4 linked regions of the Homo sapiens genome follow. The protein of the gene in region 3 interacts with the protein of the main gene of each other region in a biochemical or structural test. Each region holds a gene or a part of one and is shown on either strand. Other genes may lie near its edges.

Region 1 (7,068 bases), on a different chromosome or scaffold from region 3:
TTTGATGGAGCCCTACTTGGAGGGAGGGGCTGGTAGGAGATGATGCCCTGGACCCTAAAAACCAGTAGGCTCCCAAAGAGAGGACTGCGATAGCTGGAAGGGAACCACCCTTCCCTCATACCCCCTCCCCGAGCACCTCTCTGCCTGTTGGCAAAGATCAGCTGTTCAACCTCAGGATATTTATTTATTTCCAGCCTCGTTCCCAAAATGATTTGAGAGAGCTTAAAGAAATAGATGCACAGTATCTCCACTGTTAAAAAAATGGAGCTCAGACCTGAAGCATCCCTGAGCAGGCAAAACAAGTTAGGTCTCGTAAGGGACCTTACCCTTGCTTGATTTGCAGACATGCAAAACTGGAGCTCTTCCTTTCTTCTTTCCTTCCTTCCTTCCTTCCTTTTTCTTTCTTTTTCCTTCCTTCCTTTCTTCCTTTTCCTTCCTTCCTTCCTTCTTTCCTTCCTTCTTTCTTTTTTCTTTTCTTTTCTTTTTTTTGAGACAGGATCTCACTTTGCCACCTAGCCTGGAATGCAGTGGCATAATCACGGCTCACTGCAGCCTCCACCTTTCTGGCTTAAGCGATTCTCCCACTTCAGCCTCCCAAGTAGCTGGGACAACAATTGCATGCCACCACACTCAGCTAATATTTTCTTTTATTTTTTGTAGAGATGAGGTCTCGCTATGTTGCCCAAGCTGGTCTCCAACTCCTGGGCTCAAGTGATCCTCCCACCTCAGCCTCCCAAAGTGCTCAGATTACAGGTGTGAGTCACCATGCCTGCCTTTGAGCTATTTCTTGTAAATGCCTATATTAAAGAAAAATAAAACTTAAGTGCAACTAATGAGAAGCAGCCAGCACAAATAATTATATAACCAGGGACTTTCCAATGGGATAGATCAAATAAGGCAACTGTATAACTGTAACCAATCAAATATTATATTTGCTTTACTTCTGTATCTGTCTTATAAAAACCTCCCGCTTGTGCTCCCTCAGTAGAGTTCCCAAGCCACTTCTGGTTTGGGACTGCCTGATTCAAAAATTGTTGTTTGCACAAATAAACTCTTAAAAAATTTATTGTGCCTCAGTTTACCTTCTTAATACCACTAAAGATACTCCAGTAAATAATGCCTAGTTTACTATCTTGACAGCCTCATAATTAATACCATGATGATGTGATATCATTAGATCATTACACATAGAGTGACTAGCTTGTCCTGGTTTTGTTAGAACTTTTCCAGTTTTAAAACTGAACATCCCTTGTCTTGCAAAACTCCTCAGAGACAGACAACAAAAAGTTGGTCACCCTCATTACACAGGATTTGGACCATAAAGTCTACTTGCTAGGTTAAAAATTTAGCTCTGAGTTTCCTAGCAGCCAAGTCAAAGAGAAACACCATATGTCATAAAAATTGTTTATTCTATTGACAATTCTCCTTCCAGAAAAATTTATTTTCTTATTTATTTTAACATCTATAACAGCACTATCCGTAGAACTTTCTGAAATAATGCAAACATTCTGCACTATTCAATATAATAGTTTCAGGCTGGGTGCGGTGGCTCATGCCTGTAATCCCAGCACTTTGGGAGGCGGAGGCAGGTGGATCACCTGAGGTCAGGAGTTTGAGACCAGCCTGGGCAACATGGTGAAACCCCATCTCTACTAAAAATACAAAAATTAGCTGGGCACGGTGGCACACACCTGTAATCCCAGCTACTCGGGTGGCTAAGGCAGTAGAATCGCTTGAACCCGGGAGGTGGAGGTTGCAGTGAGCCGAGATCGCGCCACTGCACTCCAGCCTGGGCGACAGAGCGAAACTCCGTCTCAAAAACAAACAAGCAAACAAAATCAATATAATAGTTGCTAGCCACTTGTCTCTATGGAGCACTTCAAATATGGCTAGTGTAGTGAAATAACTGAGTTTTTATTTTATTTCATTTTAATGTACTTAAATTTAAATAGCCTCATTTGGCTAGTGGCAACTCTATTGGACAGCACAGCTGTACTAGATACAAAGAAACCAAGTGCTCAGGAAGAGCCTCTTTCCTAATATTGAGGCCTGAGGAATTTCTCCCATGAGTTATCACAGGAGGTGAGTACAAAAGTGAGTTCCACCTAGGGGCTTTTCTCTTTTTATATTATATACAGTATAATAGCTGGCTCTTCTAAAGCATAGGCTATGTGCTAAGTACTCTCAGGCACTTTTTTTTTTTTTTGAGACAGAGTCTTGCTCTATCGCCCAGGCTGGAGTGCAGGGGTGCGATCCCAGCTCACTGCATCTTCTGCCTCCCAGATTCAATTTTCCTGCCTCAGCCTCCCAAGTAGTTGGGATTACAGGTGTGTGCCACCACACCCAGCTAATTTTTTATATTTTTAGTAGAGACAAGGTTTCACCATGTTGGTCAGGCTGGTCTCGAACTCCTGACCTCAAGTGATCCACCAGCCTCAGCCTGCCGAAATGTGCTGAGATTACAGGCGTGAGCCACCGTGCCTGGCTGGAGGCACTCTTTTCATATAATAATTCCTTCAATTCTCAAAACTATCCTAGAAAGTAAGAAATTTCAGTACCCACAGGGAGAAAGCTCCTCCCAGGAGAAATCCTGAGAAACCTAAGGCTGCCCTTTCCCTGAAACACTGGTACATCGGTCTCCCTGCCCTTCCTAGAGAGAGCCAGGAGCCTGGGGGACAGGCAGAGGGCTAGAAAAGAGCAGGGGAAGAGACAAGAGGGAGGGAGACCAGGAAGAGGGGGTTCCCAGATGTCCTTACCCCCATCCCAGCTGACGCTGCAGGACTGACATTGACTACATGGAAAAAGTGAGCAATGTCTGGCATCACCCCCTGGTACCAGAGGGCATTTGGGGAGTCAGAAGGAAGACCTCATGTGCCAGGCCACAGAATGCACCTGCATACCCACAGGCATGGAGCCTGGGCCAGGCCCACCTAGGACAAAACACCTCTTTCGAGTTTTTTGCAGATGGTCCCCTGACATCCTTCACCACACTGGTCTGACTGCCAGGATCTCTTGGGCCTCCTGGGCCCCTCACGCCCTGGTAAGCAAAGGAGGAGGCAGGTGTGACCCCCCCACCCCCGCCGCCACTCCATCTGTGACTGGGAAGCTGATGACTCCAGGGTCAGAAATAACCCCACGGTCAGCTCCCTGCATGCCGCCCTTCCCCTCCCCTCCATTCCCAGAAAGCCTGGGCCCTGAGTCAGAGGGAAGAGTCGAGAAGAAAGGACTCAGATAATCTGGAATGAAAACCATAGAGTCCTGCTGTGGAATTCATTCATTGGGAGGCCGAGGCAGGTGGATTACCTGAGGTCAGGAGTTCGAGACCAGCCTGGCCAACATGGTGAAACCCCATCTCTACTAAAAATACAAAAATTAACTGGGTGTAGTGGTGCAAAGGAGGAGCTGGGCCTGGCCAATCTCGGCCCAGTGAAGAGCTGGGCCTGGTCATTCAGATGTCTTCCCCCCAAATCCAGCTTCATCGGGGCTGTGTTGACCTGTGCTGTGGGGCACAGGGTGGAATGGATAAGAAAGAAGGAACTCTTTAGTGCAGAAGGGAATGGGGAAGAAAGAGAGCTGAGCATCACACTCAGAGGTATCCAGGCTCAGAACAGAGGAGGAGGTGCCCAGCCTGCCCTCAGGAGACCTCCAGTCTCCTGGCACGGTGGGTGGAGACACGTCAGGAAGAGTCAGAGGCAGGGCCAGAGTAGAATGATGGGGGCTCACAAGACGGGAGCAAGCTGTCCAAGGTGTCAGATGCCTCTTCTTAGTCACTCTCTCAAAATAGTCTGGGACACCCCCAACCTCACAACCCAGCTGAGTCACTGACCCCAATCCCCAGATCAGACTTTGGATGAATGAAGCTTCTCCCCCTCTGTTTCCCCTCCCCAGCCCAAAGGACATGTAACTGATTCCCCAGGATGGAAGAGTGACTTCCACAAGACCTAAAAATAACCGAACCACTTAATACTCGGAACATAGCCTCTCCCACCCGCCCCCACCACGGCCCACCCACTAGCCAGCAAGATAAAGGCAGCTGCTGGGGCTGGCAGGGGACAGAGACCTGGAGCCAGGGCAGCAAGAAGGTGTCTGTTGGAGCCAGCAGAACAGAACCAATTTGAACAAGAACCTCCAGAGGAACGACGAACCCTGAGACCACAGCTGCTACAGACCACAAACACCCCATCAGCCAAGAGAGACCCTTGGTGAGTAACCTACCTCTCCATCCTTCCACAGCAAGGCTGGCTTTCACAGCTGGGATCCCCTCTCCTTCTGAAATGGACGTATTAGGAATGGCTCTGAGTAGGGGAAGGAGATTGAGGGGCATGCATGGGAGGAGGTGAGTGGAAGTCTCAGACATAAAGAACCCACAAAGGAGGTAAAGACAGTGTGAGCCCCATGGGAGCTCTCAGAGTGGCTGCCACAGGCCTGAAGCTAGCAGAAAGGATAGGCTCCTGCCAGGCTGGCATGATCCAGAAAGGCCTGGAGTTGTGATTTTTAAAATACAGGTATGGAGTGCCTCAGGCTTCAGGGCTTCCTCCCAGGGAAGCTTCAGGCAGGCCCAGGATCTGGAGGAAGGAGGAACAGGAGAGAGGTGGGGGCAGGGGGCTGTAAGTAGGCCTGAGTGTGCATTGCTAGAACAAGCCCCATGCCTAGTTGTTGTGGATGACACTCTTGGCATATCTGGCCCAGGGATAGCTCCCAGGGGCTGGCCGGAGCCCAGCTCCCTACATATCATAGCCTAAAACCTGGGGTGGAATTCGGACTCTGCCCATGTCCATAGTCTTGCCCAGTGGGAAAGCCCCCAGGGCAGATTTGGGGGGCTCACGGGAGGGAGACCAGATCTGAATTTGCCCAGATGTAAAGACATATGGAGCCAGCTGGGCCAAGGAGGAGGTGACCCGAGGACAGCAGGGGGACCATCCTGAGAGGCTGGCCCAGCCCTAGGAGACCAAGCTCTAGGACAGTTCTTGGGGCTCACCCCACGTAAGTCTGGTCCCAGTTATGAATTCTGTCCTGACTCTACACTTGTCCCAGCAGTCTCAAGCCAGGCAAAGATGGTGGTGGGAAGGCCAGGAGTCAGGAGACATGCTTCAGGCTTTGCTACTGCCTTGCTGAGCCTCCTTGGACAGCTCCTTTCCCCTCTTTGGGCCTCTGTTTCCCTATTTGAACAATAAGGGGTTTAGATTGAGTGACCTCTGAGGGTCCTTAGGCCTGACATCCCTGGACTCCATGATAATAACTGTCTGTGGCCTTAGCAGAGATTCTGGAAATTCCTGGGGGCGGGGGTGGGGTGAAGCTGATGGTGTGCACACACCATCTGCTCAGGCCACCCTGGTGGTGACAGGATGGAGTAGAGGTGGAGACAGGCTCAGGTTTGCCTTGGGCAGGGGATCCTCATTGGAGCTCAGAAATGAAAGAAAACCACCCAGAGCTTTGATGAGACTCAGGCTGCAGGTTTCAGAGCTCACATTCCCCAAAGGTTCTGATGTCTTTGGTGGACATGCCAGGGTGGGCATGGGGTCAGCAGGTCTCAGTTTCCTCTCTCCTCCTTCTGAGGTAGCCATAGGGAGGAAGTCCTGCCCCACTTACTTCCAGTACCTCCCCCCAGTGCAGACTCCTTTGGCCAGGGAAGGTGTCCAGGTTCTAGCACCTGGCTGGCCTGCAGCCCAGGGGCCTGACACCAGCCCAGGAGGCAGGATAGGGGAGCCCAGGCTAATGAAGGAGATGAGGTGAGCCAAGGGTACTGAGGGTCCCCACTGGCTGGGCCTCAGCCTCCCTCTGAGCCCAGGGCTGCTGTTCTGAGGCCAGGACCTCAGCTATATTTAGCACCCTGTGTGGTGCAGAGCAGTGGGTCAGGGGCAGCAGGAGGGGGCACGTGCTTCCCATTCTTTCCCTACTGGCCTCTGGGGACTGTTAGTACACCTGTCACAAGAGAGATAAGACATACATGGACAGAGACCAGAGAAGGGCTTGAGGGGTGGTAGGTCATTGAGGGGCGGGGGTGTAGCCGGGGAGAGGCTGAGCTGGGGTGGCCATGAGGCCTGCAGGGGTAGGGCTTAGCCTGAAGCCCCCCTGAGTCCGAGCCCCTGAAGCTGTGCTTGCTTGCTTAGAGAGCGGTATCCAGGAGCAAGAGGCAGGGCTGTCTCTGCAGAAAGGACCCTGATCCCATGGTCCTCTCCCTGGTTGTTGTCACCCTCATATCCTCCCAGGGGTGCCTGCTGGGGAATAGACGGGTTCTATGGCCAATAAGAAAGCTTTACACCTGCTACCCTCTTATTTCTTGGGGCCATGCCCTAAATGGAGTCTAGGGACCCCAAGCCAGCACGGCCTTCCATTTATTCACCAAGATCTGACTCTGGGCCTAAGTTCCCTCATCTTTATTTATAAATGATTGTGCTAAAAGACCTTTGAGATCCCCCTAGCTCAGACATTCTCAGTCTTCGAGTATAATGCAGAAAACCCTGACCAGATATTCAGAATTTGGATCTGGCCTAAGCACGAGATATCTGATGAGCAGCTTCCCAGCCCTGATTCTCAACTGCTTCCGCTCTAGCATGGGCTGTTGGCCTCTGCTTGCCTCCTTGGGCCTGGGAAAGGTTGGAGTGCGTTGACAGCCAAGAGGTAAAAGTTAGGCAGCGTTCCAGGTCAACATGGCAAGTCTGCCCTCTGGTGTTCTGCAAAGGAATCTCGTCTCCATAGGAAATCAGTCACCAGTTTAGAGACCTGCCTCTCCAAGGCTGGGACTCCAAAAGTCAGGATTCCCCCAGGCCACTCCCCTGGCAGTCTTCCAGGGAAACACTGATTTTTAACAAAGGAAGGTGAGGATGGGGCATGTCCAGTTTGCCCACTGGAGGTTTATGCGTCCCTTATGGAGCTAAAGGAAAGTGTCTCATGTCCAGTGGTACCATGGTCACTCCCTAGCAACGCATGAGATGTAGGGAAAGCAGGAACCCACTATGATTAATGGGTCCATGTCCTAAGTTCAAGACCTGTTGCCCACGAACCATGCAGGCAGCGAAGTGAAGCCCAGGCCAGGCACATAGAGAGAGGGAAGGAGTCTCTAAGCGT
Region 2 (7,024 bases), on a different chromosome or scaffold from region 3:
CAGGGCATGTCAGAGGTCTTCACGGCAACTGCACCCATCACAGGCCCAAAGGCCTAGGAGGAAAGAGTGATTTCCTGGGCTGTGCCCAGGATCACTATGCTGTGTGCAGCCTAGGGACTTGGTGCCCTGTGTCCCAGCTGCTCCAGCCATGGCTGAAAGGGGCCAATGTAGAACTCAGGCCATGGCTTCAGAGGGTGCAAGCCCCAAGCCTTGGCAGCTTCCATGTGGTGTTGAGCCTGCGGGTGCACAGAAGAACTGAGGTTTGGGAACCTCTGCCTCGATTTCAGAGGATGTATGGAAATGCCTGGATGTCCAGGCAGAAGTTTGCTGCAGGTGCAGGGCTCTCATGGAGAACCTCTGCTGGGGCAGTGCAGAAGGAAAATGTGGGGTCAGAGCCTCTACACAGAGTCCCTACTGGGGCACCACCTAGTGGAGCTGTGAGAAGAGGGCCAAAATCTTCCAGACCCCAGAATGGTAGATCCACCAACAGCTTGCACCGTGTGCCTGGAAAAGCTGTAGACACTCAACATCAGCCCGTGAAAGCAGCCAGGAGGGAGGCTGTACCCTGGAGAGCCACAGGGGCAGAGCCGCCCAACACCATGGGAACCCACCTCTTGCATCGGTGTGACCTCGTTGTGAGACATGGAGTCAAAGGAGATCATTTTGGAGCTTTAAGATTTGACTGCCCCACTGGATTTCAGACTTGCGTGGGGCCTGTAGCCCCTTTGTTTTGGCCAATTTCTCCCATTTGGAATGGCTGTATTTACCCAATGCCTGTATCCCCATTGTTTCTAGGAAGTAACTAACTTGCTTTTGATTTTACAGGCTCATAGGCAGAAGGGACTTGCCTTGTCTCAGATGAGACGTCGAACTGTGGACTTTTGAGTTAATGCTGAAATGAGTTAAGACTTTGGGGGACTGTTGGGAAGGCATGATTAGTTTTGAAATGTGACGACATGAGATTTGGGAGGATCCAGGCAGAATGATATGGTTTGGCTGTGTCCCCACTCCAAACTCATCTTGAATTCCTATGTGTTGTGGGAGGGAGCCGGTGGGAGATAATTGAATCATGGGGGCAGGTCTTTCCTGTGCTGCTCTCGTGAGAGTGAGTAAGTCTCATGAGATCTGATGGTTTTGAAAAATGGGAGTCTCCCTACACAAACTCTCTCTTTGCCTGCTATCATCCATGTAAGACGTGACTTGCTCCTCCTTGCCTTCCACCATGATTGTGAGGCCTCCCCAACCATGTGGAATTGTAAGTCCATTAAACCTCTTCATTTTGTAAATTGCCCAGTATCTGGTATCTTCATCAGCAGTGTGAAAATGGACTAATACAATATCTAATGCAAGAATTGTTTACAGGTTTATCTTGAAACTTGTAGGTATAGAAAGTGATGGAGAATCTGGAGTTTGCTAGGGCTTTGGGAATGTAACACTCAGCCAAGGTTCCCTCAGAATTCTTTTTCAGGGACTCTGAAATCAAGGTATCTGGCATTCCCCTGAGAGCTCAAGTACTCATATTAAATGAACACCTTTTTGAGGACTTGTCTAAGCATCTACTTCATGCTGTAGCTTGAGGGTAAATGCTCCTGCTGTTCAGTACAAGCAACCCAGCGGCCTGGCTCCCTAGCTATCCCCTAATCAATTACACTGAATGTGCTCTAGGACCCCTCCTACCGCACCATCTCTTAGTCTGCAGTTCCCTTAGAACTCTGCCCACATGCATAATAGTCCTTTCCTAAGAATATTTTGAATAGAGGTTTCCCTCTCTTTCTGCTATATCATCTTTCAGAAGATTACTTGATTTCCAATAATACTCTTTTTTATTGGAATTTTTTTATTCTATTATTTCCATTCACTTTTATAGACCTAAAGTAGAAAGGGAGGGAGGTAGCTATATGTGCTCAGTCTGCCATCTTGATCCAGGATCTCTGGATCACCATTCTGCTTTTATCTCTTATTAGTATCCTGCTATTCCTAGACCCCCTGGGTTGCTTTCTATTATTGACTTTCCTGATGACACATAAGTTCAAATCTCTGGTACACAAGCCAAAAGTGACATGTATTCACGTTCTTGGGCCCTAGACCAATTGCTGTTGGTTGCCTACCTCTTGTACTCTTCCTATTTATAAATTTTTTCTCCTGTGAGTCTGGTGAATATGAATGAAGTCTCCAGAGGCTTATCATTCCCAAATTAAGGGAAATAATTTGAATTTTCAGTGTGCCAGTATAGGAAGCGGTGAACTATAGTTGTTAGAAACATAAGCTTAAATCCCAACTCCCTTGGCAAGTCACTTAATCTCTTTTCAAATTTAATTTAAAACTTTTTTTTTTTTTAAGAGACAGGTCTCTCTATGTTGCCCAGGCTGCTCTTGAACTCCTGGGCTCTAGTGATCCTCCTACGTCGGCCTCCCAAAGTGCTGGTATTACAGGCTTGAGCCTACTCAATATCTATGTCTTAGTTTCCTCATCTATAGAGTAGCCATATGAATTATCATTGTACCTTTAGGGTAGCTGTGAACATTCTTCCTGTAGGCAAATTCTAACACATGCTTACTAATATGGTAATAAATGTTAGCTATTACTATTATTAAAATCTACTCCCTTGGCCAGGCATGGTATCCCAGCACTTTGGGAGGCCAAGGTGGGTGGATCACTCGAGGTCAGGAGTTTGAGACCAGCCTGGGCAATGTGACAAAACCCCATCTCTGCTAAAAATAGAAAAATTAGCCAGGCGTGGTGGCATGCACCTGTAATCTCAGCTATTCAGGAGGCTGAGGCATGAGATCACTTGAACCCGGGAGGCACAGGTTGCAGTGAGCCAAGATCTCACCACTACAGCCTGGGTGACAGAGTAAGACTCTGTCTCAAAAAAAAAAAGAAAAAAAAGAAATCTACTCTCTGGACAGCAAAGATACAAGATGGAGTTTTCTCATGAGTCTTTCTTAACCTGGAAGTCTTTAGTGCTTAATGGAGCCTGATTAAAGAAAGTTCTACTTAGGGACTTCCCATCTGCACCACTGCTATGGATGCCATAGCAGAATAAGAGACATAAATGTCCCAGAGGTATATGTGTCTCCGAGGTATGAGATTCTTTTTTTTTTTGGAGACAGGGTCTCACTCTGTTGCCCAAGCTGGAGAGCAGTGGCATGATCATTGCTCACAGCAACCTCTGCCTCCCAGGTTCAAGCAATCCTCCCACCTCAGCCTCCCGAGTAGCTGGGACTACTGGGATATACCACCACTCCTGGCTAATTATTTTTTGTATTTTTTTGTAGAAGCAGGGTTTGGCCCTGTTGCCCAGGCTGGTCTCAAACTCCTGGGCTCAAGCAATCCACCCACCGCAGCCTTCCGAAGTGCTGGGATCACAGGTGTGAGCCACCGCACCCGGCAAGGTTTGAGATTCTTTATCTGAGCAGCAAATGAAGTCAGGAGGCTACAGCAGTCATAGGCTCAAAACAGAGTCAGAGGCTCAAGACAGCCTATCTAGGGTGATGAAATAAGAAATTAGGTAGTGAGGCTGGGTGCGGTGGCTCATGCCTGTAATCCCAGCACTTTGGGAGGTCAAGGTGGGCGGATCACCTGAGGTCAGGAGTTCGAGACCAGCCTGACCAACATGGAGAATTCCCATCTCTACTAAAAATACAAAATTAGCCAGGCATGGTGGCGCTTGCCTGTAATCCCAGCTACTCAGGAGGCTGAGGCAGGAGAATCGCTTGAACCTGGGAGGCAGAGGTTGTGGTAAGCCAAGGTCGCGCCATTGCACTCCAGCCTGGGCAACAAGAGCGAAACTCTGTCTCAAAAAAAAAAAAAAAAAAAAAAGAGGCCGGGCGTGGTGGCTCATGCCTGTAATCCCAACACTTTGGGAGGCCGAGGCAGGTGGATCACCCAAGGCCAGGAGTTCAAGACCAGCCTGGCAACATGGCAAAACACTGTCTCTACTAAAAATACAAAAATTAGCCAGGTGTGGTGATGGCGCATGTCTGCAATCCCAGCCATTTGGGAGGCTGAGGCAGGAGAATCACTTGAGCCCAGGAGGTGGAGGCTGCAGTGAGCCAAGTTCATGCCACTGCACTCCAGCCTGGGCAACAGAGCGAGACTGTCTCAAAAAAAAGGAAAAAAAAAAAAAGAAAAGAAATTAGGTAATGAAAATGTAAATCATTTTTTGTCCATCGAGGATGGTAACATATCCCTAAAAAGCCTGGGTAGGCTGTTTCTGGGACTTGTGAGTGTCAAGAAACAATTACATATTATTTCCTCGTCACTTACCTCTTAGTTGCTGGAGTTCCATATTCAAACTTTCAATGTTACTTTCACAGAACTTGAGATCCTCGAGGGTCTCTGCTCTTGATGATTCATCCTGCTTCTCCTCCAGCATGAGGTTTAGCTCTTCTTGAGCTCTACTGTACATATCCAAGTCCCGCTCCATTTCCTCAATCCTCACCAGCACTAAGGGGCATGGGGAGGTCTGGTCCAGACTCCTTCCCATATGACCAGGGCCCTCCTTTTCTAAGGTCTCACAGGTAGGACGGTGTCGAGATAGGAGCTTGGGGGATACCGCATTCGTTCTCTGCTGTGCTGAGGGAGGCAGGGGAGCTGGGCGAGAGGGTCGCACCACCAAGGGTGGTGCAGGTTTTAGGTTCTGGTCAACCAGCAAATGGGGAGAAGTGGATACCGGAGTACAGGGACGAGGTGGCGGTGGCCTTAGGGCCTTTCTCCTTTCCGGCAGCTCCTGCTCGGTGATTAACTTTGAGGAACCTCGGACAATATCCTTCTCAGAGTTAAAGTCCATGATTGAAAAGTGGCGTAAAATTTTATCTGGCTCTGTGCCGGGCCCTGCCAAGCTCTTCTCAAACTCGATCAGCTGTTGTGTCAGCTTCGAGTCCAGGTCAGTGCTGCCGTCTCCCTGTGAATGTGTTGCTGCTTCCATAACAAGCCCTTGGGCTTGCGGACCAGGCTTCATCTCCAATCTCTCTGAGATGGAGTAAACACTGGACGTGTGGTGCTTTTTAGTATAACTTGCTAGGTTGTGGAGCTGAGGACTTGATTGTCTGGGTTTGACTACCCTTGAAGCTGAAACAGAAGAGCCCCTGTAAAGAGGGAGCACTGGCTTCTGAAGAGTTTTTAGCTGGGAATACATTCTTTTGGGAGGTAGGCTGGCATAGTCTCTAGTCCTTGCTTCTAGGGGAAGAAGGTCGGGGTACTGTTCTGAGTGCGGGTGGCTCCCTCCCACTGTAGAATAATACTGGCTTTTCTGCAAGTTGGGATGAAAAGGGACCTGAGGTTGGGAGGAAATACCATTGACTACTTCTGTAGGGTCAGATGTGGGAGAGTCTGTGGCAAGAGGCATTTCCCACTCCACGCCTGGGCTTCTCGGGGGCCCTCCTGCGGTGTCCTCGTCCTGATAAGAGTTTCTGTCTGTGTCATACTCTGAAGTCAGATGACCGAGGGGAGAAGTGGGTGCTTCAGAAATAATGCAGTCAGGCTCCTCGGCCTCATGGTCACTGGTTTCATGTCTTTGTTCCTCTACTCCTAAGGTGTTCTCCAAACAATCCAAAGAAGTTTCCGGGATCCTGGCAAGGCTGCCTTCCTGGGGCAGAGCCATGGTTTCCTCCACCCGTGTGTCAGGACATAATTTCACAAACCGGTAAGGAAAGATGCCTGTCCTGCCCTTCAGGGATCCTTCCAGCCAGCCATCTTCCAAGGTCGCCAGAATTCGGATTTTATCCCCGACCTCGAAATCCAGCTCATTTGGCTCCAGGGCTTGGAATCTGTACAGGGCGACCCCATAGGTCCCTGGCTCCTCCTCATCCTCATCCGGCCCTATCTCTTCTTCTCCTACAGGGGTATCTACTTCACCATTAACAATGCAGTCATCTTGATTTCCAGAACTTACTGACTCATCCACAGTCCTCAGGGGCCCCAACAGCTCTACAAAACCTTCTGGAAAAATGCCTCTTCGGCCCTCTAACTCCCCTTCAAACCAGCCTGGTTCAGGAACTCCAATAATGGTGATCACATCCCCTTCCCTGAAGTCCAGCTCTTCATCCAGCTGAGCAGAAAGCCCCATTAGGGCCCGGGCTTGTCCCATGGAATATTCCGGAATCTGAAACAGGGCGCTCTGGGAGTGCCACTGCCGGCTCTGTGAGGAGAGGCAGAGCTCGCGGACACATGAAGATGGGAAGAAGCCCCGTGCGCCCCAGCAGCTTCGGCCCTGCAGCCAGCCTGCAGTGGGAATGCCATCGAGAATCACCAGGTCACCTAAAGAAAAGAGGAGCAGAGATGGTGACCTCAGTCATCACCCAGCAGAACATTATCACGACTAATAGTGCAACCTCTCATTTTAAACAGCTACCAAATTCAAGGAAATACACCTAGAGCTTTAGGAGCATGAACAATTTTGACAATTTATTGAATTGGAGCAGTTCTATAAACCTGTAGTTTTCAGAGTGTTCCATGGAACCCTACAGGTGGGTCTCCAAGATCCTAGCAGAGAATCTGTGAGGTCAAAACCATTCTCATAATAACACTAAGACTTTATCTACATATTTTACTCTGCTGACTTTTGTAATCTCTGTGAAAAAGCAATGGTGATTAAAACTGCTGGCCAGCTAGGTGCTGTGGCTTACACCAGAAATCCGAGCACTTTGGGAGGCCAAGGCAGGAGGATCGCTTGAGACCAGGAGTTCAAAACCAGCCTGGGCAACATGTCAAGACCTTGTCTCTACAATAAATTTAAAAATTAGCTGTGCACTGTGGCTCATGCCTGTAGTCCCAGCTATTCAGGAGGCTGAGGTGGGAGGATAGCTTGAACCCAGGAGGTCAAGGCTGCAGTAAGCTGTGATTTCACCACTACGCTCCAGTCTGGGTGACAGAGCAACACTTGTCTCAAAAATAAAAATAAAATGGCTGGGCGCGATGGCTCATGCCTGTGATCCCAGCACTTTGGGAGGCCAAGGCAGGCGGATCACTTGAGGTCAGGAGTTCGAGAGCAGCCTGGTCAACATGGTGAAACACCATCTCT
Region 3 (7,024 bases):
GCTCTGCCTTATAAATTGGGCAAGTCCAAGTATTTTTGGGGCCCCAGTTTTTTTTTTTTTTGGTTTTGGTTTGTTGTGTTTTGTTTTGAGACAGTCACATTCTATTTCTCAGGCTGGAGTGCAGGCATGATGATGGCTCGCTGAGGCCTCAACTTCCTGGGCTCAAGTAATCCTCCCACCTCAGCCTCCTGAGTAGCTGGGACCACAGGTAAGTGCTACCACGCCTGGCTAATTTTTGTAGAGATGGGGTGTCGCCATGTTGCCCAGGCTGGTCTTGACCTCCTGGGCTCAAGCGATCTGCCCGCCTTTACCTCCCCAAGGGCCCCAGGACCGATGGCCTACCTTGGCAAGGTTGTGCTGTTCTTCTCCCAGGGTCTCCGCACAGATTCTGGGGATAGGCAAGAAATCAGAAAGATCAGGGACAAAAGACTGCCCCCCAATCAATCTTACTCCCCCAACCTCATCAGCCCCTGATCAAAGCCCCATCTCAGGAGACTACAATCCCCAGCACCATTCGCCCTGACTCTCCTATAAGGGTGCTTAACATGTGAGAACAGAGTATTCTGGGATTTGTAGTTCCTGTGGCTGGACTGGGCACTCTACTCACCACTCTGGGCCGGGACTCTGGCCTCTGGCTCCTCCTGCTGGTAGGAAATAAAACTGCCATGAGCCAGCCCCTGCCACACCTCTGCCCATTTCCTCTTTCAGGTTCAAACCCCACACATCCCACTATCCCTACCCTCATGGTACGGCCTAAGAGATGTAGGGCAAGAAGAGTCCCTGACTTACATTGGCAGATTCATCCTTGGGGGTTTTCTCCCCAACTTGCGTGGCTTTCCTTCTGCAGGAGAGAAAAGCAAAAACACGTGCTTCCGTCACCCAACCCATCCCCTTCTGAGGGGAGTTCTAGAAATGTAGATCCTAGCGCATAGAATTCTGGAACTCCGAAAACCTAAGGAAACTCTAGTTTTAGAAATTCAAGAGATTGTGCTGGGCGCAGTGGCCTGTAATGCCAACACTTTGAGAGGCTGAAGCAGGTGGATCTCTTGAGGTCAAGAGTTCAAGACCAGCCTGGCCAACATGGTGAAATCCTGTGTCTACTAAAAATACAAAAATTAGCCGGGTGTGGTGACTCATGCCTGTAATCCCGGCTACTTAGGAGGCTGAGGCAGAAGAACTGCCTGAACCCAGGAGGCGGAGGTTGCAGTGGACCGAGATCATACCACTGCACTCCAGCCTGGGTGACAGAGCAAGACTCCATCTCAAAAAAAAAAAAAAAAAAAAAAAAAAAAAATTCAAGAGATTGTGGTTCTAGAATCAGGGTGGAGGAGGTTCTATGATTCTTATATTAGGGAACAGTAAGATTCCGAGGGTGGAGCGGTGCTGTGTTGGAACACTGAGATTGCAGGAACCTGAGTTCCCAGAATTCTGAGGCAGGATCTCCTACGGTTCTAGAATTCTGGGTTTTAGAACATCTACAGGCTACCTAGGTGGTTGCAAGCCTCAGGCATTTCATGACAAACCCCACCATTATATCCCAAACCTGGTTATCAAAGGGGGAACATTCACCAAAAGAAACAAACTAAACAGGAATTGGAGCCCTCCTCTGACTGGGCCCTACTGAACTGGAACTCCAGGTGACTTGGGGGTCCAGGCTCAGGCTCACCTCCGGGCCAGCATGGCGTTCATCTCTTCCATGAGTCCCCCACCTCCGCTTCGACCACTCTCAGCTTTGGGGGCTGTGGGCCCCCCTGAGGCCTCCTCCTGCTGGAGAAATTTAAAAGGGGCAGGAGCTTTAGGGGCAGGCCTTTTGGCCTTCCAGCCCAATGACACCGCCGGCAGCCCTGGCCTCATCCCCCATAAAAGCCCTGTTGCCCCCTGCCCACCTCTCCCGGCCCCTCACCTTGCTGACTTTCCTGAGTTTGGCTCCAGCAATAGCTGCGGCCAGGCCTGGGGCCCCAGCTCCCCCACCACCAGGGCCCTGTGCTGCCGGGAGAGGGGGTGCAGGGGGTGGTCCTCCCCCTGCTCCGTGCGCTGCAGCTGGGACCCCCGAAGGGGGCAAACCTGGGGGTGGGGGGGGACCTGGAGGAGGGGGAGGTCCTGGTGGTGGGGGTGGACCCCCAGCGGGGGGAGCAGGTGGGCCTCCTGAAACAAACACAGAAAAGGGGGCAGCTGAGAGAGAGAAGCCTCATTCTTCACTGTCCAGCTGGCTGGCCACTTCCTCCAGGGAGGCCCCCTCCCAACTCCCGAAGCTATCTGAGCATCACCTGCATTGGAGACCCGGCGCTCTATGTGCTCCGACGGGCCGGGCTGCTGCCTGTGGGGGGAGGCGAGAGAGCTGCCGTCAATCAGGGCCCTAAGGATGGCCAGCGAAGGGGCCAGCGACCTCCGTCCTCTCTCTCAGAGGTCTCCAGGGTGGCTGGCTCCTAATACTCACCCAAGCCTTCCTCCCCTAGGGAACCAAGAAGGGGGCTGGGTGAGAGTAGGGGGAATGGAGGGCAGGGCAGCGACAGGGAGAGATCAGGATGCGAGATCCCAGTCACTAAACTGTCAGGAACACCGAATTACAAAATGCCCAAGATTCTTTCTTTTCTTTTTTTTTTTTTGAGACTCTGTCACCCAGGCTGGAGTGCAGTGGCTCGATCTTGGCTCACTGCAACCTCTGCCTCCCGGGTTCAAGCGATTCTCCTGCCTCGGCCTGCCGAGCTGGGATTACAGGCACGGGCGCCACCATGACCGGCTAATTTTTGTTATCTTCAGTAGAGACGGGATTTCGCCATGTTGGCCAGGCTGGTCTCAAACTCCTGACCTCAGGCGATCTGCCCGCCTCGGCCTCCCAGAGTGCTGGGATTACAGGCGTGAGCCACCACGCCCAGCCACAAGATTCTTTCAACCACCATATTCTGATTTCCAGGAATCTGCAGGGACCAGGAGGTTCTGCAACTCTGAGTGTCAGAAGTTTCTTGAACATTCTGAAAACTGCAAGTTGGCTGGGTTCTGAACTCTAGGAGTCAAGGGTTCCAGAACATATGGAACTCTGGCAGCGGCTAAGGTTCCCCACCCAGGGCCCAGCCCCACCTTTTCTGCTGCTCCACCTCCTCCGGGGAGGGGCCGTTCGGGACCGACCAGGTGGGAAGTGCTGGGGGTGGAGGGGGCCCACCTCCTGAAAGGTGAGAGAGAAAGGGCCATGGATCAGTCCCAGAACTCTGCTCAGCTCTTGGCGCTTCCCTTGCTCTCCCAGGCCTCCCAGGAATCCTGCCCAGAGGCGCTCACTTCCTCCTTCCAGAGGCCCTGAGGCTCCAGGCCCAGGAGGACGCACATTGGGAGGTGAGGCAGCACCAACTTCCCTGGCCTGAGTTGCCCTAAGGTAGGTGCTGTTGTGATGTCCCAGTGACAGGAGAAGCTAAGGCCCGGGGAACAGTCACTTGCCCCAGATTTCTCCAGGGTGGAATGTGCAGGAACAAGACTTGAATTCAGGCTGATTCCAGCAGCCAGGCTCTTAACCACTGTTGGTTTGTTTCGAGACAGAGTCTCACTCTGTCACCCAGGCTGGAGTGCAGCAGTGCAATCACGGCTCACCACAGCCTCCACCTCCCGGGTTCAAGAGATTCTCCTGCCTCAGCCTCCTGAGTAGCTGGGATTACAGGCGCCTGCCACCATGCCTGGCTAATTTTTGTATTTTTAATAGAGATGGGATTTCACCATGTTGGCTAGGCTGGTCTCGAACTCCTGACCTCAAGTGATCCACTTGCCTCAGCCTCCCAAAGTGCTGAGATTACAGGCGTGAGCCACCGCACCTGGCCCCTGGCTAGCTCTTAACCACTGTTACAGCCACTTGGACCTTACCTAAGAACCTGGAAAGGTAAAGAGCTTCTTCCTCACCTACCTCCAGGCCTCTGGCCCTAGCACCTGAATTGAATTGGCTACGAATTAACAATGAATTAGCCCCAATTTACAGATGACTCAACTGAAGCCCACTGTATTTTTCTGTGTGCCCCAGAGGAGCAAGCCCCTTCCGCACTAGCACAGAAGTTGTCCCACGAAGCAAACACCCCTGCATTTGGTGACTTTCAGTTCTACAGCAGTGATTCCAGGCCAGATGCACGGCAGTCACCTAAAACCTCACTACTCAGTCACGTCCGCAGACCAGCAGCCTGGGTATCACCAGGGCACTTGTGAGAATGTGGAGTCTCAGTCCGCCCAGCCCACCTGCACCAGAGCCTGCACTTTAACCAGATCCCCAGGTGATTCATGTGCACGTTAAGGTTTAAGAAATAGCAACTGGGCTGGGCGCGTGACTCGCGCCTGTAATCTCAGCACTCTGGGAGGCCGAGGCGAGTGGATCACCTGAGGTCAGGAGTTCGAGACCAGCCTGGCCAACACTGCGAAACCCCGTCTCTACTAAAACTACAAAAATTAGACAGGCATGTTGGTGCACACCTATAGTTCCATCTACTCAGGAGGCTGAGGCAGAATTGCTTAAACTCAGGAGGCGGAGGTTGCAGTGAACTGAGATCACACCACTGCACTCCAGCCTGAGAGACAGAGTGAGACTCCATATTAAAAAAAAAAAAAAAAAAAAAAAAAAAAGGCCGGGCGCAGTGGCTCACGCCTGTAATCCCAGCACTTTCGGAGGCCGAGGCGGGCGGATCACGAGGTCAGGAGATCGAGACCATCCTGGCTAACACGGTGAAATCCCGTCTCTACTAAAAATACAAAAAATTAGCTGGATGTGGTGGCGGGTGCCTGTAGTCCCAGCTACTCGGGAGGCTGAGGCAGGAGAATGGCATTTACCCGGGAGGCAGAGCTTGCAGCGAGCGGAGATCGCGCCACTGCACTCCAACCTGGGGACAGAGCGAGACTCCGTCTCCAAAAAAAAAAAAAAAAAGCAACTGGGCTGGGTGTAGTGGCTCATGCCTGTAATCCCAGCACTTTAGGAGGCTGAAGTGGGAGGATCACTTGAGCCCAGGAGTTCAAGACCAGCCTGTAGACCATCTCCACAAAAAGTAAAAAAAAAAAAAAAATTTGAAATGATCCAGGTGGCCAGACATGGTGGCTCACACTTATAATCCCAGCACTTTGGGAGGCAGAGGCAGGTGGATCACTTGAGGCCAGGAGTTTGAAACCAGCCTGGCCAATATGGTGAAACCCCTTCTCTACTAAAATACAAGGGCCGGGCATGGTGTCTCATGCCTGTAATCCCAGCACTCTGGGAGGCCTAGGCGGGCGGATCACAAGGTCAGGAGATAGAGACCATCCTGGCTAACACGGTGAAACCTTGTCTCTACTAAAGATACAAAAAATTACCCGGGTGTGGTGGCTCACGCCTATAGTCCCAGCTACTCGGGAGGCTAGGGCAGGAGAATCGCTTGAACCCGGGAGGCGGAGGTTGCAGTGAGGCAATATCGTGCCACTGCACTCCAGCCTGGGCAACAGAGTGAGACTCTGTCTCAAAAAAATAAAAATAAAAACAAAATACAAAAAAATAGCTTGGGCATGGTGGCACATGCCTGTAATCCCAGCTACTCAGGAGGCTGAGGCACGAGAATCACGCGAACCCGGGAGGTGGAGGTTGCAGTGAGCTGAGGTTGCACCACTGCACTCCAGCCTGGGTGACAGAGCAAGACTCTGTCTCAAAAAACAAAACAAAAAAAGAGCCAAGTATGGTGGTGCACACCTGTATTCCCAGCTACTTAGGAGGCTGAGGCAAGAGGATCACTTGAGCCCAGGAGGTGAAGGCTGCAGAGAGCCATGATTGTGCCAGTGCACACCAGCCTGGGCAACAGAGCGAGATCCTGTTTCTGGGGCAGGACCTACCTATGTCTTGATCTGGGAGGTGGTTTCCCGGGAGTGTGCCTGTGTAAAGTTCATGGAGTACTGATCCCTGAGTAATCGTGCATTTTTTTTGTGTTTGTTTTCTTTCTGAGACGGAATCTTGCTCTGTCGCCAGGCTGAAGTGCAGTGGCCTGATCTCGGCTCACTGCAACCTCTATCTCCTGGGTTCAAACACTTCTCGTCCCTCAGCATCCCGAATAGCTGGGATTACAGGCGCGCACCACCACGCCCAGCTAATTTTTGAATTTTAATAGAGACGCAATTTCACCATGTTGGGCACGGTGAAACTCCTGACCTCAGGTAATCCGTGTGCCTCGGCCTCCCAAAGTGCTGAGATTACAGGCATGAGCCACGGCGCCGGGCCAATGGTGCATTTTACACATAGGTGCACACGGTCACACTGGAATGCACAAAATGCTAGTGATAATTTTCCATGATAACAATGAATTCGCTCTATTTTACCGACGAGTAAACCAAGTCCCAGCAGGGTAAAGCGGCAGCCCCAGGCCACACAGCCGCATTCACTGGTCCCCTTTGCCCGCCGCCATTTCTGACCTTCCAACGCCTCTAGGGCACTGGCCATGCCGGCGGCAAACTGGGCCGCATCCTCCTTGCTGCCGAAGTTGAGGCCCCAGACCTGGCGAGCGTCGCGCCACTGATGGAAGTTGGGGGTGGCCTGGTTATACTTGACACCCCGGACGATGGCACAGTTGATGACCACCTGGTGGGAGGGGAAAGGGGGGTGAGGGGCGGCGGGCGCAGGGGTGGGGCGGGTAGGGGTTCAGCCCACAGAGGGGGCCGGCGGGAAGCTGCACCTGCTGGTCGGGCTGCATCTTCCGGCCCACGACGCGAAAGGAATTGGCCGTGGGGTTGTGGTAGATCTGGACGCGGCTGAAGGCCTGGGGACCCGTGCCAGCAGGGAGCCATCGCTTGTTGCCATCATCATAAAGCATCACAGTGGCCCGGCTGGAACAGATGACCGTCTCGCTGCAGGCGGGAGGAAAAGGGAGAGGGGCCGGTCACCTTCTTATCTGGGTCTCTCCTGGGAGATTCCAAGGGACAAAGACAGTGTGTGGAAGGAAGAGAGTGACACAGAGGGAGGCAGGAGCCACGTGGACAGAAGGAGACGGGGGAGACAGATCAGGAGAGAAAATCAGATCAGGAGAGACAGGCAAACACACAAACGAGA
Region 4 (7,024 bases), on a different chromosome or scaffold from region 3:
GGGAACTTCTCATGCAACGAGTCCTTCAGCACTTTGGCAATGAAGCGCATCCCATAACTGCGGGATGGACAAAACTTAGTGAGAAGGGCCAAGGAGCAGAAAGGCACTTAGTGCTGGGTTCTACTGGGGGTCATGACAACTGATGGCACTCACGGGATTTTGTCCACAGAGCTGACAATGGCTGAGAGAAACTTGTCTGTCACAGCCCGCATGTTCCTGATGGAGCTGTCTAGCCGTGTCTTCACTTCTTCATGAGCTAGCGCCTGCTCAGGGGTCACATCATAGGGCAGTTTGCTGGGAAGACAGAAATTATACCCAACTATGTTAGACTAACAGCCAGGAACAGCCTGAAGCAAGTGTCTTATCTTTCATAAACTATAAGACCCAGAAATATTAGATAGCTTAAGCTCATCCTCACGGGGCTGGTAAGTGATAAGTCTAGAATCTGAACGCAGGTTTTTAACTGTGAATCAGGTGCCTGAATTGTGTGCCAGGCACAATAACAGGCACTTGGGAATAAAAGTTATACAAGACATGACACCTTCTCTTCAGTCTTTTACAGTCTGGTGGGAGCGACACACAAACAGATGATTATAAACCTATTGTGCTGTAAATCAGTTCACCAAAAGTGCCACAGGACCATAGGGAAAGGGCTTCAACTCAGAATGGAAAAAGCAAGGAAAGCTTCCAAAACGAAGGGATGCTTGAACTCAGGAAAAAAGGAGAGGAAGAGTCTTCTAGGAAGGAAGGGGAGACAGGAGAAATGACAGTGGAAAAGCAGACAGGGAGCAGGCCATGACAGACCCCGTATATGATACTGACAAATCTGGACTTTGTTAGAAACCAGAAGGAGGTCTTCAAGGATAGGAGTGCTATGCCAGGCACAGCAGCACATGCTAGCATTCCCAGCTACTAGGAAGGCTGAGGTGGGAGGACTGCTTGAGCAAGACCTTGTCTTAAAAAAAAAAAAAAAAAAAAAAAAAAGAGGCAGAGAGAGCTTTGGTACACACAGAAGGGGAAGAGAAGGCAATGTGACCACAAAGGCAGAGGCTGGAACCACACAGCCACAAGTTGAGGGATGTCAACAGTCACCACAAGCTCTAAGAGTCAAGAAACAGAGTTTCCACTAGAGCCTCTGCAGGGAGCGTGGCTCTTCCAGCACCTCGACTTCATGATAATGGTTTCAAATTTCTGGCCTCCACAATTGTGAGACCATGACTTTCGGTTGTTTTAAGCCACCCAATTTGAGGTGATTTGTTATGGCAGCCTTAGAAAATACAAGTAGAGGCCGGGTGTGGTGGCTCACGCCTGTCATCCTAGCACTTTGGGAGGCCGAGGCGGGTGGATCACCTGAGGTCAGGAGTTTGAGACCAGCCTGGCCAACATGGAGAAACCCCATCTTTACTATAAATACAAAAATTAGCCAGGCGTGTGGCGCATGCCTGTAATCCCAGCTATTCGGGAGGCTGAGGCAGCAGAATCGCTTGAACCAGGGAGGCAGAGGTTGCAGTGAGCTGAGATTACACCATTGCACTCCAGCCTGACCAACAGAACGAGACTCTGTCTCAACCACAACAACAAAAAGAAAAATACAAGTAGATAGGGATACCCCTCTTCATTTGTCATAGCATGGCTAAATTAAAATTGGTAGACTATGAACACAAAAATTCTGCAAAAATCAACAGAAACATTCTATGAGAAATAAATAAATACATGGAACTTAACAATAAAGAATATTGTATATTTTATTATTTATATGAGTTTTAAAAGTAGTAACCAGCAAGGGAATCAATATGCTAAAAAACGTTGGTGATAGAACAGAACATTAACTTTGAGATTTTAGGAAAGAACATTCCCAAGAGGTGACAAGATTCCAGTTTGCTACGTGTATGGTGGCTGAAGTAAAAGAAGAAAGCTAAGGGACCTGTGATGCTTACCTGCAGGACAGATCCCCACCACACCACCATCCCTCACAGTCACTGGTATCTTAAAAAGAGTTCAAATCAATTTCCTTTTTTTTTTTTTTTTTTTTTAAGATATGGGGTCTACATTGCCCAGGCAGTGCTCAAACTCCTGGGCTCAAGCGATCTTCCTGTCTTGGCCTCCTGAGCAACTGGGACTACTGGTGCATGCCACCATGCCTGGCTCAATTTCCATTTTATGAAAGGCAAAATAAGACACCAGTTTCTTATAGGTACCCACAAGAAAACCAATCCTGAAATGTCCAGCGGGCTTTGGATCTGAAAATGACTGACTCATGGACCATCAGAGGAAATAACTGAGAAGCCCGGAGCCAGTGTACATGGGGCTATCGGCAAGGAATGCCCTGGGTTGCAGGCAAAACTTCCCAGACAAGTATTGCACTTGGCTGACCACATTCCTGGATGTGGGCCTCAGGTATGCAGGCAAAAAAATTAAAAAGACTTTTGCAATGATCTGAGTCCTGATAACAGACCTACATGGTACTGAGAACCAATCAGATGCCAAATGATTCCTAATAAGGAAACGCCCCTTCTTTCTTTTTTTGTCAACCAGGATGGAGTGCAGTGGCGCCATCAAGGCACACTGCAGCCTCAACCTCCCATGCTCAACCTATCCTCCTGCCTCAGCCTCTGGAATAGCTGGAACTACAGGTGTGCACAACCACACCCAGCTAATTTTTTTTTTTTTTTTTTTTAAGTAGGGACAAGGTATCCCTATGTTACCCAGGCTGGTCTCAAACTCCTGAGCTCAAGCAATCCTCCCACCTCAGCCTCCCAAAGAGCTGGGATTACAGTCGTGAGCTACCATGGCTGGTGAGATAAGCCCTTTCAAGGAGTCAGCAGAATGTTCCGTTCTCCACCCAGCGTAAAACTCCCTGTTTGCCTGGCATCCGGGTACATGGAAAGTAGAATGAAGAATAGTGTTATTCAAAGTGTGGACCAGTGCCAGTCTACAAACTGATCAAAGACAAGATAAAGACAATGAGTCAGAATGTAAATCAATACATTACTTCCTTCATTAAGAAAATCTTGCTATGAAAAAAAAAGTATCAGTTAAACTAAACAGTGTGCACAGATGATTTTCCATTACTGGTGTGCAAACCACACTTTGAATAGCAATGGTGTGGACAGCTGCTACTCCACCTATGCCCAGAGAGCTTCATGCATGATCTAACTCTACTCCACAACAAGAAAAAACCACAACAGACCATGCTGCTCACACCTCCATCTCCCACCCCTCTGGGTCCTCACCCAAGACAAATAAAACCAGAAACGTTTTGGCATTCTGAACTCCCTTTTCCCAGCATTACCAATATTTGATTGGCACACTTTTGCTTTAGATAAATGAATGTTGGTGGTTACGCTATGGCCCTAGCTCAGCTATCTCCTGTAATACGTTAATTTAATTAGCCCAACTCACGATATTTCAGGGAAGCTCACTCCACACCGTTTTCTTTTTCCTTTAATGAAACACAGTGATCTCACCCAATCTATATGAACCTTCTCATTCAACTGTATCCCTAGTTATGCCAGGGTCCATTTAAGTCCTACACCCTCCAGCTTAGAGTGTTCAGACATAAACACTCTGCACCTAGCTCTTAGTAAGGCTGGGTTCATCTTAGCTTTAGGGCCTCAGCTAAATGAAATTTTATCTTCCGGGATAGGCTTTCCCTAACCACCTTATGTTAGCTCCCTCTTATAAAGTCTCCATTAAAGAACCGTACATAAAACTTCATAAAACTTTCTTCAATGTTTAATTATGCTTTTATTTTTATGTACCTGGTTGGTGTCTCTTCCACCCAATGAACTATGAAGAGAGGGCAGGAAGCATGTCTGTTTCACTCATTATTGCATTACTGTACACATCTCTAACACAATGCCTGGCACATAGTTAATACTCAATAAATATTTGCTAAATAAGTGAATTTATTACTAGGTCAACAACTTAGAAAGCACAGTTTTCTAAAGAAAAACTATTTGAGGCTGGGTGTGGTGGCTCACAGCTGTAATCACAGCACTTTGGGAGGCCGAGGCAGATGGATTGCCTGAGGTCAGGAGTTCGAGACCAGTCTGGCCAACATGGTGAAACCCAGTCTTACTAAAAATACAAAAATCAGACAGGTGTGGTAGCGTGCAACTGTAATCCCAGCTACTCGGGAGGCTGGGGCATGAGAATTGCTTAGACCTGGGAGGTGGAGGCTGCAGTGAGCTGAGATTATGCCACTGTACTCCAGCCTGGACGACAAGAGTGAAACTCTGTCTAAAAAAAGAAAAGAAAAGAAAAACTATTTGAACTAATATTAGTTTATAAATAAAGAGAGGGGAAAAAAGAGGGAAAGACTATAACAACATGAAAGAAAAGTGTCATTATGGTTAACATACCTTGCCTCTCCTGTCTGAGACTCCATCTGATTAACCCAAGATTTGTAAATATCCACAGGGTCAGTTTTGATGTTGAGAGATTTGTCATCCATAATTTCCTTCACGACTGGGGCCAAGATCTGTCTCAGGGCATTCTGGCCACGGGCACCACGGTTGAAACTTACAACCATTTTAATAACCGTAGGATTTCCTGTCACAATCTCTTGAATCTGATCTACCTTCGACCTATAAAACATCAGATAAAAATTTAAACTTGTCACAAAACCCATCAACTTAAAAGATCCTTCCTGCTTAAAGATCCTATCTCCCTGAAACAGTTTCTCTCGAAACATTCCCCAGCACTCACAGAATGTTCCTGCAGCTGCACGCTCAATCGTGGTCATGATTGGGTCCGCTACTAGATAAAAATGTGAATTCTTTCTGTTCAGATTACTTTTTGAAATTATACCTTAATACAGAATGTTCCTAAAGTTAATTTATCCCTTCCCTAGAAGCAGCAAGATTTTATATCAGTTATTTAAAAATTAGATGCTTCTTTAGAGTAAGTATTTTTCATAAATTAATTGAGATCAAGAAAAGATCAGGAAGGCATGAATCTCAAACTGGGAGCCCCTCTGATAGTGGGAAGGGGCCTGTGCCCTGAGGAAATCTGTTCATACTTGATTTCCTCTTGGAGTGCTGTCTTAAAGAGCCGCAGGAGCAGGTACTCCTCTCGCTGGTTGGACGCGTAGTTGTAGAGTGTGAAGATTACAGAGTCCATGAACTTGGTGGACTTGTTCTGGGGCATCTGAAAAATGAGCTTGGCCAGATAGGTGGGATTGGTCTGAAATAAAACCAAGGGATAAGTCATTTGTAGGTAATATAAAGGCTGGCAAGATATATTCAATTATTTAAAATTGAAGGACTACAATACATATGAGAAAAAAGATTAATAAATTAACATGTTACAGTGCCCCTCACTCACCCCTCAGTGGAAGTCAAAAATACTTCCAGAGAGATCGATGGTAAGGCTTTCTTGTGGAAAAATAAATTCACTAAATTTTTATAACACTGATTCCAGGAGCCACTTACTTGCAATAAATAAAACAGGTGCTGGTAAGCTTCCAACTTCTCTCTCTTCTCCTTGCTCAAAGCCTTGAGACCTCCCTTCTGTTTATTTATCATCATCATATCAGACAACTGTTCCTTATTTTTTTTGGTAAGTTTTTTACTGTGGGAAACCACATCCTATAAACAAAAACCAATAAATAGATCAGAAAGCTTTCAAAGATGAACCTCTGGGCATTGAGGAAAGGTTTTGCAGCATGTGCAAACTCACATGAAGGTGTACTGCACTGGCAGATTCCCACTGAATATTTAAAAACCACTACACTTTATCCTGTTTTCAGTACACCAGTCAAATCCATTCCTATGTTCCAACAAAGAATCTGAGCCATAAGAATGTCCACTGAATTGGCAAACCAACTTCCAGCAGTCTATTATAAAAATAAGTCTTAAATACAATAAAAGCTACATATATATTGAAACATTAATTGCAATGTTATTTATAATAAACGCTTGGAAAACAACCTAAATGTCAAATACTAGGGGAAAAAGAGGTAAATCATAGTATATCTTCTAAAAATCTAATATGCTACTGTTAAAAATAATATTTATGGCTGGGTGCAGCGGCTCACACCTGTAATCCCAGCACTTTGGGAGGCTGAGGCAGGAGGATCACCTGAGCCCAGGAGTTTTGAGACCAGCCTGGGCAATACAAAGATACCCTATCTCTTATAAAAATATAATTTGCCAGACGTGGTGGCATGCACCTGTCGTCCTAGCTACTTGAGAGGCTGAAGTGGGAGAATCACTTGAGCCTAGGAGGTCGAGGTTGCAGTGAGTCATGATCATGCCACTGCACTCCAGCCTGGGGTACAGAGGGAAACTCTGTTTCAAAAAATAAAATTAAAAAAAAATTATGACTACTTATCATAGGGAAAGAGTCTTATCCTTTAATATGAAGTAAGAATGTAAGATACAAAATGACTGGGGTAGGTGAAATTAGGGGAAGACATTTATCTTCTTTTCTCTATCAAAATTTTGTCAATTAAGTTGTTTTATGTCTTAAATAATTTTTTTTTTTTTTTTTTTTTTGGAGATAGAGTTTCACTCTGTCACCCAGTCCGGAGTGCAGTCATGCAATCTTGGCTCACTGCAACCTCTGCCTCCCAGGTTCAAGCGATTCTTCCACCTCAGCCTCCTGAGTAGCTGAAATTACAGGCATGTACTACCATGTCCAGCTAATTTTTTTTAATTTTTAGTAGAGACAGGGTTTCACCATGTTGGCCTGGCTGGTCTCAAACTCCTGGCTTCAAGTGATCCGCCCTTCTCGGCCTCCCAAAGTGCTGGGATTATAGGTGTGAGCCATCATGCCTGACCTGTCTTACATAACTTTTTTAAAAGCTTATGATGGCCGGGCATGGTGGCTCATGTTTGTAATCCCAGCACTTTGGGAAGCCAAGGTGAGTGGATCAATCACTTGAGGCCAGGAGTTCCAGACCAGCCTGGCCAACATGGTGAAACCCCCGTCTCTACTAAAAATGCAAAAAAGCCGGGTGTCGTGGCTCACGCCTGTAATCCCAGCACTTTGGGAGGCTGAGGCGGGTGGATCACCCGAG

What was found.
Region 1: the proteins of VASP (region 3) and XIRP1 form a complex in vitro, tested with the Homo sapiens proteins (one study listed by BioGRID and IntAct).
Region 2: the proteins of VASP (region 3) and DNMBP form a complex in vitro, tested with the Homo sapiens proteins (one study listed by BioGRID).
Region 4: the proteins of VASP (region 3) and IQGAP1 form a complex in vitro, tested with the Homo sapiens proteins (one study listed by BioGRID).

Annotation. Positions count from the first base shown.
Region 1 is NC_000003.12:39,189,580-39,196,647, reverse strand, and holds the start of XIRP1 (xin actin-binding repeat-containing protein 1), read left to right. Parts: upstream 1-4,052; 5' UTR 4,053-4,202; intron 4,203-7,068. UniProt on the Homo sapiens protein: Protects actin filaments from depolymerization. Required for correct cardiac intercalated disk ultrastructure via maintenance of cell-cell adhesion stability, and as a result maintains cardiac organ morphology, conductance and heart beat rhythm.
Region 2 is NC_000010.11:99,950,945-99,957,968, forward strand, and holds part of DNMBP (dynamin-binding protein), read right to left. Parts: exon of another isoform or gene 6,262-7,024; coding exon 4,270-6,261; intron 1-4,269. UniProt on the Homo sapiens protein: Plays a critical role as a guanine nucleotide exchange factor (GEF) for CDC42 in several intracellular processes associated with the actin and microtubule cytoskeleton.
Region 3 is NC_000019.10:45,517,461-45,524,484, reverse strand, and holds part of VASP (vasodilator-stimulated phosphoprotein), read right to left. Parts: intron 6,823-7,024; coding exon 6,651-6,822; intron 6,557-6,650; coding exon 6,391-6,556; intron 3,536-6,390; exon of another isoform or gene 3,242-3,535; intron 3,164-3,241; coding exon 3,079-3,163; intron 2,318-3,078; coding exon 2,268-2,317; intron 2,146-2,267; coding exon 1,904-2,145; intron 1,768-1,903; coding exon 1,667-1,767; intron 842-1,666; coding exon 790-841; intron 645-789; coding exon 608-644; intron 389-607; coding exon 343-388; intron 209-342; exon of another isoform or gene 172-208; intron 1-171. UniProt on the Homo sapiens protein: Ena/VASP proteins are actin-associated proteins involved in a range of processes dependent on cytoskeleton remodeling and cell polarity such as axon guidance, lamellipodial and filopodial dynamics, platelet activation and cell migration.
Region 4 is NC_000015.10:90,475,230-90,482,253, reverse strand, and holds part of IQGAP1 (ras GTPase-activating-like protein IQGAP1), read right to left. Parts: intron 5,592-7,024; coding exon 5,436-5,591; intron 5,188-5,435; coding exon 5,024-5,187; intron 4,590-5,023; coding exon 4,365-4,589; intron 295-4,364; coding exon 154-294; intron 58-153; coding exon 1-57. UniProt on the Homo sapiens protein: Plays a crucial role in regulating the dynamics and assembly of the actin cytoskeleton.